2 separate regions of the Homo sapiens genome follow, and region 1 is linked to region 2. Evidence: fine-mapped expression QTL. A gene starts in region 2. The other region holds a variant in brackets. All regions are shown on one strand. Distances are from middle to middle. Region 1 overlaps LOC101927166 (a long non-coding RNA gene). Region 2 holds the start of CBX1 (chromobox 1).

Region 1 (5,448 bases), 350 kb after region 2:
CCATCCATAAACCCACACAGATGTTTAAAGCTTCAAATACCTTTCTGTGTGTAAAAACCTCAATAGACTACAAAGTTAGGTACAGATGTTGGAGTTTATTCATTTTAGTTTCAGCAACAAAAGACAAATATGAGGATGAATGTATCTCAAAATTTGATCCGGCAATTTCACTTCTAGGAATCTATCCCACAAAAATGCTCACAGCTATGCAAAACGATGTATGTGTGAGGAATTTCACTGCAACTTTTTGAAATTCAGAGATAACCTAAATGTTGTCAATAAGGAATTGAGTAAATAAATTATAAAATTATGATGCATAGATACTATGCAACACTGTAATAGTTAAAAAGAATAAGAAAGTAAATTTATAACTTTATGGTTGTTATAAGAGTTATAAGGGCATGAAAGCCAACTTATAAAAATTAACAGATGTGGTTATTATATCATTAAATCCTTGGGTGTTCACTAGATACTTGAGTCAAGAGTGACCATAGAAAAATACACCCAGATAAACCTTAGGGAAATATCCAAAGCTTTAAACAAAAAGGGACATATCTAATAGTTGCATTTCTATTTACTATATCATGGACATCTCTTCATGTCAGTACTTCTTAATTTTTATTACTAAAAAAATTACACAGAGCCAGGCACAGTGGCTCATGCCTGTAATCCCAGCACTTTGAGAGGCGAGAGGACTGCTTGAGCTCCAGAGTTCAAGACCAACCTGGGCAACATAATGAGACCTCATCTTTACAAAGACTAAAAAACACTAGCCAGGCATGGTGGCACATGCTTGTAGTCCCAGCTACTTGGGAGGCTGAGGTAGGAGGATCACTTGAACCTGGGAGTTCAAGGTTGCAGTGAGCTGTGATCATGCCACTCACTGCACTCCAGCCTGGGTGACAGTGAGAGCCAGTCTCAAAACAAACAAACAAAACAAAACAAAACAAACACATAATAAAACATAAGCCATGGATTATAAAGATAGTTCTCTAGTCTAACTATTGAGAAAAGTTAGACGATTTGTAGGTAGTTGAAGTGTATTCTCAGGAATACAAATCTATAATATCCTAGCAGTGTAAGTTATAAGTTGAAACAGCCCTAAACCAAGAATCAGGCATCCAGGACTCTTGTCCCAGCTCTACCATTAAGTCACTACATGACATCAACCAAACCACTTTTCTGGGCCCCAGTTTCCACATCCAGAAAATGAGAATGTTAAAGTTCATGTTCTCCAGGGTCCCTTCAAGCTGAAAATTCTATGGTTCTATGAAATCACTTTTCAAAGATTCAATAAAGGATGTTTATATATAATTATAGTCTCTGGTCATTTCTGACACTAACAGGAAGGTTTTGACAAGGCCTTAAATACTCACATGCAGAGAAAGTACACTAAGAATTTTTTCTTTTTTCTTGAGACAGAGTCTCACTCTGTCACCCAGGCTGGAGTGCAGTGGTACAAACACAGTTCACTGCAGCCTTGACCTCCCAGGCTCATGCAATCCTCCTGCCTAAGCCTCCTGAGTAGCTGAGTCTATACAGTGCACCACCACACCTGGCTAATTTATTTTTATTTTTATTTTGTAGAGACAGGTTCTCCCTATGTTGTTCAGGCTAGTCTCGAACTCCTAGGCTCAAGCAGTCCTCCCACCTCGGCCTCCCAAAGTGTTGAGATTACAGGTGTGAGCCATCACATCCAGCCCAGAATTTTTTTATTAAAAAGGTTCCTGCCCTCAAGGAACCTATAATTTAAAAAAGAAAATAAGACAGTTGAATTAATAGAAAAACAGTAGAACCACGTTTTACAAAAGGAATGTACAAAACGAAATTGTTAAGTGGGATCAGTGGAACTCAAATTTATGTTCCTAGAAGCCTTTGGCTTACTCAGAGGTGTTCAGAAGCTGCTTCCAGGATAGGGCAAGAGGGCAAAGGAGTGAGTACTCCACCTCCCCATCCTGGTTTAATCAGAGTAACTCTGCTTTCATCTGCATCATGCATCTAAGAAATATAACACTTTTACAGAAATAGGGCAGCTATAATAAAAATTTGAAAACCACTAGCCTAGATGATTTCTAAGGCCTGTTCCA[A/C]CTTTAAGGTTTCACAATTCTATGATTCTAAGATGTATGTAAAAATAAGTTTTTATATTTTGCATTCAGCTTTGCAGGTACATAGGAAATTAACTTCATAAAGATTAATTCTCCTTTAAAACAAATAATTATTTTGTAATACGAATATAAAGCCCTAGATGTACACTGGTCATTACAGAAACACAAATCAAAACCAAAATGAGATACCATCCCACACCAGTCAGAATGGCGATTATTCAAAAGTCAGGAAAAACAGATGCTGGTGAGGCTGACGAGGCTGTGGAGAAATAGGAATGCTTTTACACTGTTGGTGGGAGTGTAAATTAGTTCAACCATTGTGGAAGACAGTGTGGTGATTCCTCAAGGATCTAGAAACAGAAATACCATTTGACCCAGCAATCCCATTACTGAGTATATACCCAAAGGATTATAAATCATTCTAATATAAAGACACATGCACACGTATGTTTATTGCAGCACTATTTACAAAAGCAAAGACTTGGAACCAATCCAAATGCCCATCAATGATAGACTGGATAAAGAAAATGTGGCACATATACACCATGGAATACTATGCAGCCTTAAAAAAGAATAGTTCATGTCCTTTTCAGGGACATGGATGAAGCTGGAAGCCATCATTCTCAGCAAACTAATACAGGAATAGAAAACCAAACACTGCATGTTCTCACTCATAAGTGGGAGTTGAACGATGAGAACACATGGACACAGGGAGGGAAACATCATAAACCAGGGCCTGTTGGGGGGTGGCGGGCAATGGGAGGGAGAGCATTAGGACAAATACCTAATACACACGGGGCTTAAAACTTAGGTGCAGCAAACCACCATGGCACATGTATGCCTATGTAACAAACCAGCACGTTCGGCACGTGTATCCCAAAACTTAAAGTAAAAACAAAAAAACAAAAAACAAACCCTAGATGTATAATTTAACACACTCAGATTTTCCTGTCCTGAATTTTCTGAATGTGAGGCATGATCATAATTACAAAAGAACTGGATGGGAATACAAGGCAGACAAAGGGGTTATAAAAAAGATTTGCAAGATCCCTGGAACACCACGGACTAGCTGTCAGTTTTGCCAGTGAAGTAAAAGATACTGAACTAGAGCTAGAATCACTCGGCTCTACTACTGAATTAGGTCATTTTTGTTTCATAGAACACATCTCAGAAAAATCCATGATAATTACTACAGTGTTTTCTATGCATTATTACATTTAATTCTCCCAACTCCATGAAACAGGTGTTATTTTCTTCCCCATTTTACAAACAAGAAAACCGGAGCCATGGATGTTAAGTACTTTGCCCAAGGTCAAAGAGCCAGGGCTCAAACCCAGAGAGTCTGACAGCAAAGCCCATGCTCTCAGCCACCAAAAGCTGTACCCCATGTTGCTACTGGTGACTCTCAGATGCTGGGTAGACAGCCTGCCCTCCAAAGGTCAAAGGATAGGATTCAAATGGGACTCTGCCTCCAATTCCTCTATAAATTTATTTGTCTCATTATCCAATCACAAAGAAGAGTTTTCACTTCCCTTATCAAGGCTGGCCCTAGATAAAAATAATGAGGTAGCTGCAGCTTGTTCATCCTCCCTCCCCGTCACGGCTCCTTCTTCATATGAGGAAGGAAAGAAATACTGACTCCATGAAATTTGTTCTGATGCCTCCCAAGAATTGGCCACTCCTTATCTTGCGCACGCACTGAAGATGTATATGTGTACACATATACATCTGTGTGTGTGCATGTAGTACTTTCTTGCCTACTTTACATTTCATCCCTCTCCCCAACTAGATCATATCTCCTTAGGAATCACAACTAATTTTTACTCATCTCTGTATCCACAACACCTGACAGAGTGCCTAGCATATAATGGAGGCTTGATAAATGTTTATTTGTTTGAATGAAGGAAAGAAGTACATTCAACTCGGCACGGTGGCTCTCACCTGTAATCCCAGCACTTTGGGAGGCTTAGGCACATGGATCACCTGAGGTCAAGAGTTCGAGACAAGCCTGGCCAATATGGCAAAACCCCGTCTCTACTAAAAATACAAAAATGTTCTGGGTGTGGTGGAGTGCGCCTGTAATCCCAGCTACTGCGAAGGCTGAGGCAGGAGAATTGCTTGAACCTGGGAGGCGGAGGTTGCGGTGAGCCAAGATTACACCACTGCACTCTAGTCTGGGCTCAAATAAATAAATAAATAAAGAAGTACATTCATACATTCATGCTGTCTCCAAGGTTCCCAGTGTGTCCCATTGTGGCGCCTCACCTAATCTTGCTTTTCTCGGGAACCCTTTCTCCCAGTCAAACTTTGTCAAGCCTGGGCTCCCTTTCTCCTCCAGATCTGCTCTCTGCCCTCCAAAATGATAACCAGTTAGCTAACCTTATGTGTAATAAGTGCTAATGAAGTTAGCTGAGGTTAATATATTAATGTATTACTTCTTTTCATAATGTATTTTCACTTTAACTAGAAACAATTCCTTGACCTAATAGAGCCATTTCTAATGGTGAATGCATTATGCCAGCATTCAGGATGGGTCGGGGGTGGGAAATCATTGGCAGGAGAGTTTTAAGGACCCTGGCCTAGGCACCGTAAAACCACATGAACCCACCCACTTGTGTAGAAGAGTCATGGAACTAAAATGGCAAAAACACATAAATACTAACACTGCAAGTACATGTGATCTCTACTGTGACCAAATGAGTTGACCAAAGAAATGAAATTTGATCTGCCACAACAGGAGTCTGGGGTTCCCCACTGATCTTCAAGCCAAGTTAGGGTCACCTGAATGACAGATGCTCCTAAAGAGAAATGAGCTAGCCCTGTGTTTGATTGGTATGGGGCTAGGATGTTGGAGACAGCAGGAGTAATCTAATACATCTTTCACCACACAGATGAGGAAACTGAAACCCAGAGAGATAGGTGACCTGTTCAAGGCCACGAAGCCAGAGCCAAAATTGGGACAAAATAATTTATTTCCTTGAGCTAATATACAGGAAATTTTCTTTTCTTTTCTTTTCTTTTTGTTTGTTTGTTTGAGGCGGAGTCTTGCTCTGTCACTCAGGCTGGAGTGCAGTGGCATGATCTCGGTTCACTGCAACCTCCACCTCCTGGGTTCAAGAGATTCTCCTGCCTCGGCCTCCCCAGTAGCTGGGATTACAGGTGTGTGCCACCACACCCAGCTAATTTTTTGTATTTTTATTAGAGACGGGGTTTCTTCATGTTGGCCAGGCTGGTCTTGAACTCCTGATCTCATGATCCGCCCACCTCAGCCTCCCAAAGTGCTGGAATTACAGGCGCGAGCCACCATGCCTGGCCTTCTATCTTATTTAAAGCATCCTACACA
Region 2 (5,000 bases):
TTTTTTCATTTTTCTTTTTTTGAGACAGAGTTTCGCTCTTGTTGCCCAGGCTGGAGTGCAATAGCGCGATCTCGGCTCATGGCAACCTCTGCCTCCCGGGTTCAAACGATTCTCCTGCCTCAGCCTCCCAAGTAGCTGGGATTACAGGTGTGCACCACCACGCCCAGCTAATTTTGTATTTTTAGTAGAGATGGGGCCAGTATGGCTCCATTTTATGGGAGCCCATAAACTAGCAATTAGCCTTCTACACCAGAAACTCTTCGTGGAAAGAACCTATGAAGTGAAAATCTACCAAATCTAATGCAAAATCTCTTACACCACTGCAGATAGGATTTTTTTTTAAAAAAGGGAGGTTTTGCTAGATAAACCACTAGAGGATGCCAAAATTTAATGAATTATTTTCAAATGGTGTGAACAACAAAGAGAAACATTTTCCTAGTCCTTAAAATGGGCACAAGAATGAGTGCTATCTTTCTTTAGAGGTATAGTTTGTAAGTTATAGGTATCCTGTATTCAGAAATGCAGAAGACCAGGGTAACTTACTTACCACTAGGCTTCTATTTACATTCAAAACTATTTATTTCACACACCATCTATCTACCTATCATCTATCTTTTCTTTTTTTTGAGACAGAGTCTCGCTCTGTTGCCCGGGCTGGAGTGCAGTGGTGCAGATCTCGGCTCACTGCAACCTCTGCCTCCCGGGTTCAAGCGATTCTCCTGCCTCAGCCTCCCGAGTAGCTGGGACTACAGGCATGCGCCACTAGGCCCAGCTAATTTTGTATTTTTAGTAGAGACAGGGTTTCACCATGTTGGTTGGCCAGGATGGTCTCGATCTCTTGACCTCATGATCCGCCCACCTCAGACTCCCAAAGTGCTGGGATGACAGGCTTGAGCCACTGCGCCCGACCCTACTATTTATTTTTTTAATGAGAAACAATTTAGGATACAGCAGCCATTGAAGAAAAATATCACCACAGGGAAAACCGTAAACGACTTCAGGTCCTCCACTCCCGTGAAGCTTCATTAAGGTGCCACCGGTTTCAATACAAGTGCTTTTCAATCACACCACTTTCATATAAAAGTCTATAAGGCACCTAGGGAGGAACACCGGCATTAATTTCCCCATTGTATTCCTGAATCTATTCCAAAGCCTTGGACCTTTCACAATCTTTCCAAACTGCTGATGTGACTCTTAACACAATTGAGGAGGCTACTTTACCCTGGGCTAGGGGTTCTAGTATATAACTGATTATAGCTGAACTTTTTGTAAATTCCACCTCAATTGCGTTAAACCAACACGTCTAAATGTAACACCAATTTATGAAAAACCCTCATTTGAAACTTTGAAAAAGAGGTAAAATATGGCCAGGCGCAGTGGCTCACGCCTATAATCCCAGCACTTTGGGAGGCCGACGCGGGAGGATCACGAGGTCAGGAGTTCGAGACCAGCGTGACCAGTACGGTGAAACCCCGTCTCTACTAAAAATACAAAAATTAGCCGGGCGTGGTGGCGTGTGCCTGTAATCCCAGCTAGTCGGGAGGCTGAGGCAAGAGAATCGCATGAATCCGGGAGGTGGAGGTTGCAGTGAGCCAAGATCGCACCACTGCACTCCAGCCTGGGCAACAGAGGAAGACTCTTCTCAAAAAAAAAAAAAAAAAGAGGTAAAATATAGCTCACTCTATTCAAATTTTCCAACAAGGAAAAGCTGGCTAAAAACAGAAGGGCCCACGAAACAAATATTACCTCACAATCTCACATAATTTTCCTATGTCTCCCAATTTCTCGCACCTCACACGATCTCACAATCTCTCACTACCTCACGCCGTTCCTCAACTATTAACTCATCTACATATTTTTACAATTTCATCACCTTTGTGAGACCAGTTACGATCCCACACAAAAACGTACGGAACTAATTTTGAATCAAAGCAAGAACTGCACTTGGACTTTTTTAACTCCCCAAAGGAATCATGGAGTGAAGGTAGTAGGAAACCTGGAAAACTGAAAAAAGCGTATTCCATCCTTTCTTCGCACATTATTCTTACAGCCTCCCCACTGTAAGGACCCATCAGGATGCAAGGGCGGCCTGCTTTCCCCTTTTTTCTTACATACCTTATAGAAATATTCTCGGGATCTCCGCCCTACTTATCCTAACAGCTCCTCCCCTTCCAGAGTCAGGCCCAGCAAACGCCTGCCCCTCCCCCTCCGTGTCCCCTTTCCCAATTTATTCCACACATCTCCTCCTCCAATCAGCACACCTTGTGCGGCCCTGGGCCCTCTTCCAATTCACTCGACGTTACTCCTCCGTAGTCCTGCAAAGCCAGGTTCCTCTGGCAGTCCCAGCCGGACCCGGCGTCTTCCGAATACAGTTACAAACCTCGGGTTGTGCGGTCGTATGCGCCTCCTCACGCCTATCCAAGCCTCAAGCCTGTCCCCTTCCGCCCTATCCCGCAGCCGCCCAGCCAAGCAACATTGTTCCAGACCACCCGGGCCCCGAAGAGCGGCCCCCAAGTGCTCGGCCCACCCCCAAGCACTCAGTCTCTGGCTCAGGATTCGCGCCCCGCCCTCTCCATCCTTCACGCAGCTGGCACCGACGCCTCAGCGACAGGCGAAGAGCTCAGCGCGGGAAGCGGAGAAGCAGGACGCTGGACCCGGGCGCGCTCCCCGCTCCTAACCTCCGCCTCGAAAGCGCGTTCCCTCACGCAGGGCTCCCGCCGCCGCCGCCGCCGCGCCCCCTCCCCCAGCTCTCCCGCCTCCAGCGGGCTCCTCACCTCAGAGCAGCGCCCAAGAGCCCGAGAGGAATCGGTGCTGCGCTGCTGGCGCGTCGCGTCGGGTCGCCTGGGGGAGTGGCGCCCAGGAAGGCAGCAAGCCGGGTGGCCGCAGTGGCGTCCCTCACTGAAGCGGCGTACCGCAGGCCCCGGCCAACGGCCCTCCCCTCAGCCGAACAAAAGAGCCTCGCAGTCTGCGCTGCCCGCCGCTCGCACCGCGCAGGCGCAACGACCCGCCGCACGGCACCATGGGCCTCGGGGGTCTGTCCAAGACTACAAGGCCCGAAGCGCCGCGCGCCGCGCACGCACAGTAGGCGAGGGTGGTAGGGACTTATAGTTTTTAAACTGTAACGGTGGAGAGATTGCAGCGTAGAGCGTTGTAACCTAGAATATTAGAACATATGGGCCAGGGGCAGTCGCTCACGCCTGTCATCCCAGCACTTTGGGAGGCCGAGGCGGGTGGATCACCTGAGGTCAGGGGTTCGAGACCAGTCTTACCAACAAGGTGAAACCCTGTCTCTACTAAAAATGCAAAAATTAGCCGAGCGTGGTGGCAGGTGCCTGTAGTCCCAGCTACTCAGGAGGCTGAGACAAGAATTGCTTGAACTTGGGAGGCGGAGCTTGCAGTGAGCCGAGATCCAGCCACTGCGATCCAGCCTGGGCGATGGAGCGAGACTCCATCTCAAAAAAAAAAAAAAAAAAAAATTAGAACATATGATTTTTATAAGCGAGCCCCCTGATGCTTGGCCCCCAAAAAATCAACCACTTCTGGACAGTTCTGTAATTCACATCCTCAAAATTTTTGAATCTTAGATTCTTCACCAGAACTTTATCATATCGCCGCTGCCTCAAATTTCCAATGATTTCTTAGTCCTCAATCTCTGCCTCCTCAAATCTCTGTAAAATTCCTACTCACGCCGGCACGGTGGCTCAAGCCTATAATCCCAACACTTGGGGAGGCGGAGGTGGGTGGATCACTTGAGGTCAGGGTTTCAAGACCAGCCTGGCCAACATGGTGAAACCCCATCTCTACTAAAATACAAAAATTAGCTGGGCGTCGTGGCGGGCGCCTGTAGTGCCAGCTACTCGGGAGGCTGAGGGAGGAGAATCGCTTGAACCCAGGAGGTGGAGGTTACAGTGAGCCGAGATCGCGCCATTGCACTCCAGCCTGGGCAACAAGAGCGAAACTTCGTCTAAAAAAAAAAATACTGTTCAGTGTTAAGATTACTTCCCCTTTGAGGTCTTCCCTGATTCCCTAGAGTAGGTTAGGTCCCCCCATAGGCCTCTCATAGCTTCCTGAATTTCCCCCTTTTCACTGGCTGCGCCACAAAAATGTCCTCTTTTTCATTGTAAGTTGTGCTCACCTTTTTCAGTGTCATTAATCTCCGTCAGCACCTTTCACCCAATCATCCCAAGGAAACACACAATTAGGAAAAAAACATGTTTTTAAGCCACAATATAACTAAAGTTTTATTTTTTTATTTTAAAGTATCCTTCTAATCAGGAGGAAGAGGGAAACTCTATTGCACTCTACCCCAAAAGGCAAGAGTTTGCATTTATAAGACAGTTTTGCTGATGCAGGCACTGTTCAGGGCAGGAGTTTGCATTTATAAGACAGTTTTGCTGATGCAGGCACTGTTCACGGCTCTGGAGAACTGTCATGTAAGAAAAACCCAGCCCAGCAATATCATAATAGAGTTTAGTTAAAAGGGCTTCAAGAAAGCACAGAGAAGATGAGAGGTGAAGCCAGCTGGACTTCCTGGGTCGAGTGGGGACTTGGAGAACTTTTCTGTCTTACAAGAGGATTGTGAAATGCACCAATCAGCGCTCTATACCTAGCAAGGGGATTGTAAAATATACCAATCAGCACTCTGTAAAAACACACCAATCAGCCCTCTGTAGCTAGCAAGAGGATTGTAAAATGCACCAATCAGCACTCTGCAAAATGCACCAATCAGCGCTCTGTAAAATGCAGGAATCTAAAAGTAGCCAATCACAGGGAGGATTGAAAAAAGGGCACTCTGATAGGACAGAAATAGCAAATGGGCAGGGACAAACAAGGGTGTAAAAGCTGGCCCCCTGCCCCCCACCCATTCCTGTTAGCCCGCAGCAGCAACCTGCTCAGGTCGGTTTCCACGCTATGGAAGCCTTGTTCTTTCGCGTTCTTTCGCTCTTCACAACAAATCTTGCTGCTGCTCACTCTTTGGGTCCCTGCCAGCTTTAAGAGCT

The links. PIP is the estimated chance that this variant, and not a neighbour inherited with it, causes the effect.
Region 1: its variant is the best candidate, but not a certain one, in a credible set for the expression of CBX1 in lung (TOPMed, PIP 0.83).

The regions. Positions count from the first base shown.
Region 1 is chr17:48,446,854-48,452,301 of GRCh38, forward strand. All of the region lies in intron 2 of LOC101927166 (a long non-coding RNA gene), which reads left to right. Among named protein-coding and RNA genes, the nearest start is that of SKAP1, 19 kb to the left of the region's middle. The variant A/C (reference allele first, on the strand shown) is at 2,088.
Region 2 is chr17:48,098,494-48,103,493 of GRCh38, forward strand. CBX1 (chromobox 1) reads right to left here and starts at 2,985. Exons shown (of 5, transcript NM_001127228.2): 1 at 2,775-2,985. RefSeq lists enhancers at 2,718-3,317, 3,144-3,403 and a silencer at 2,724-2,773.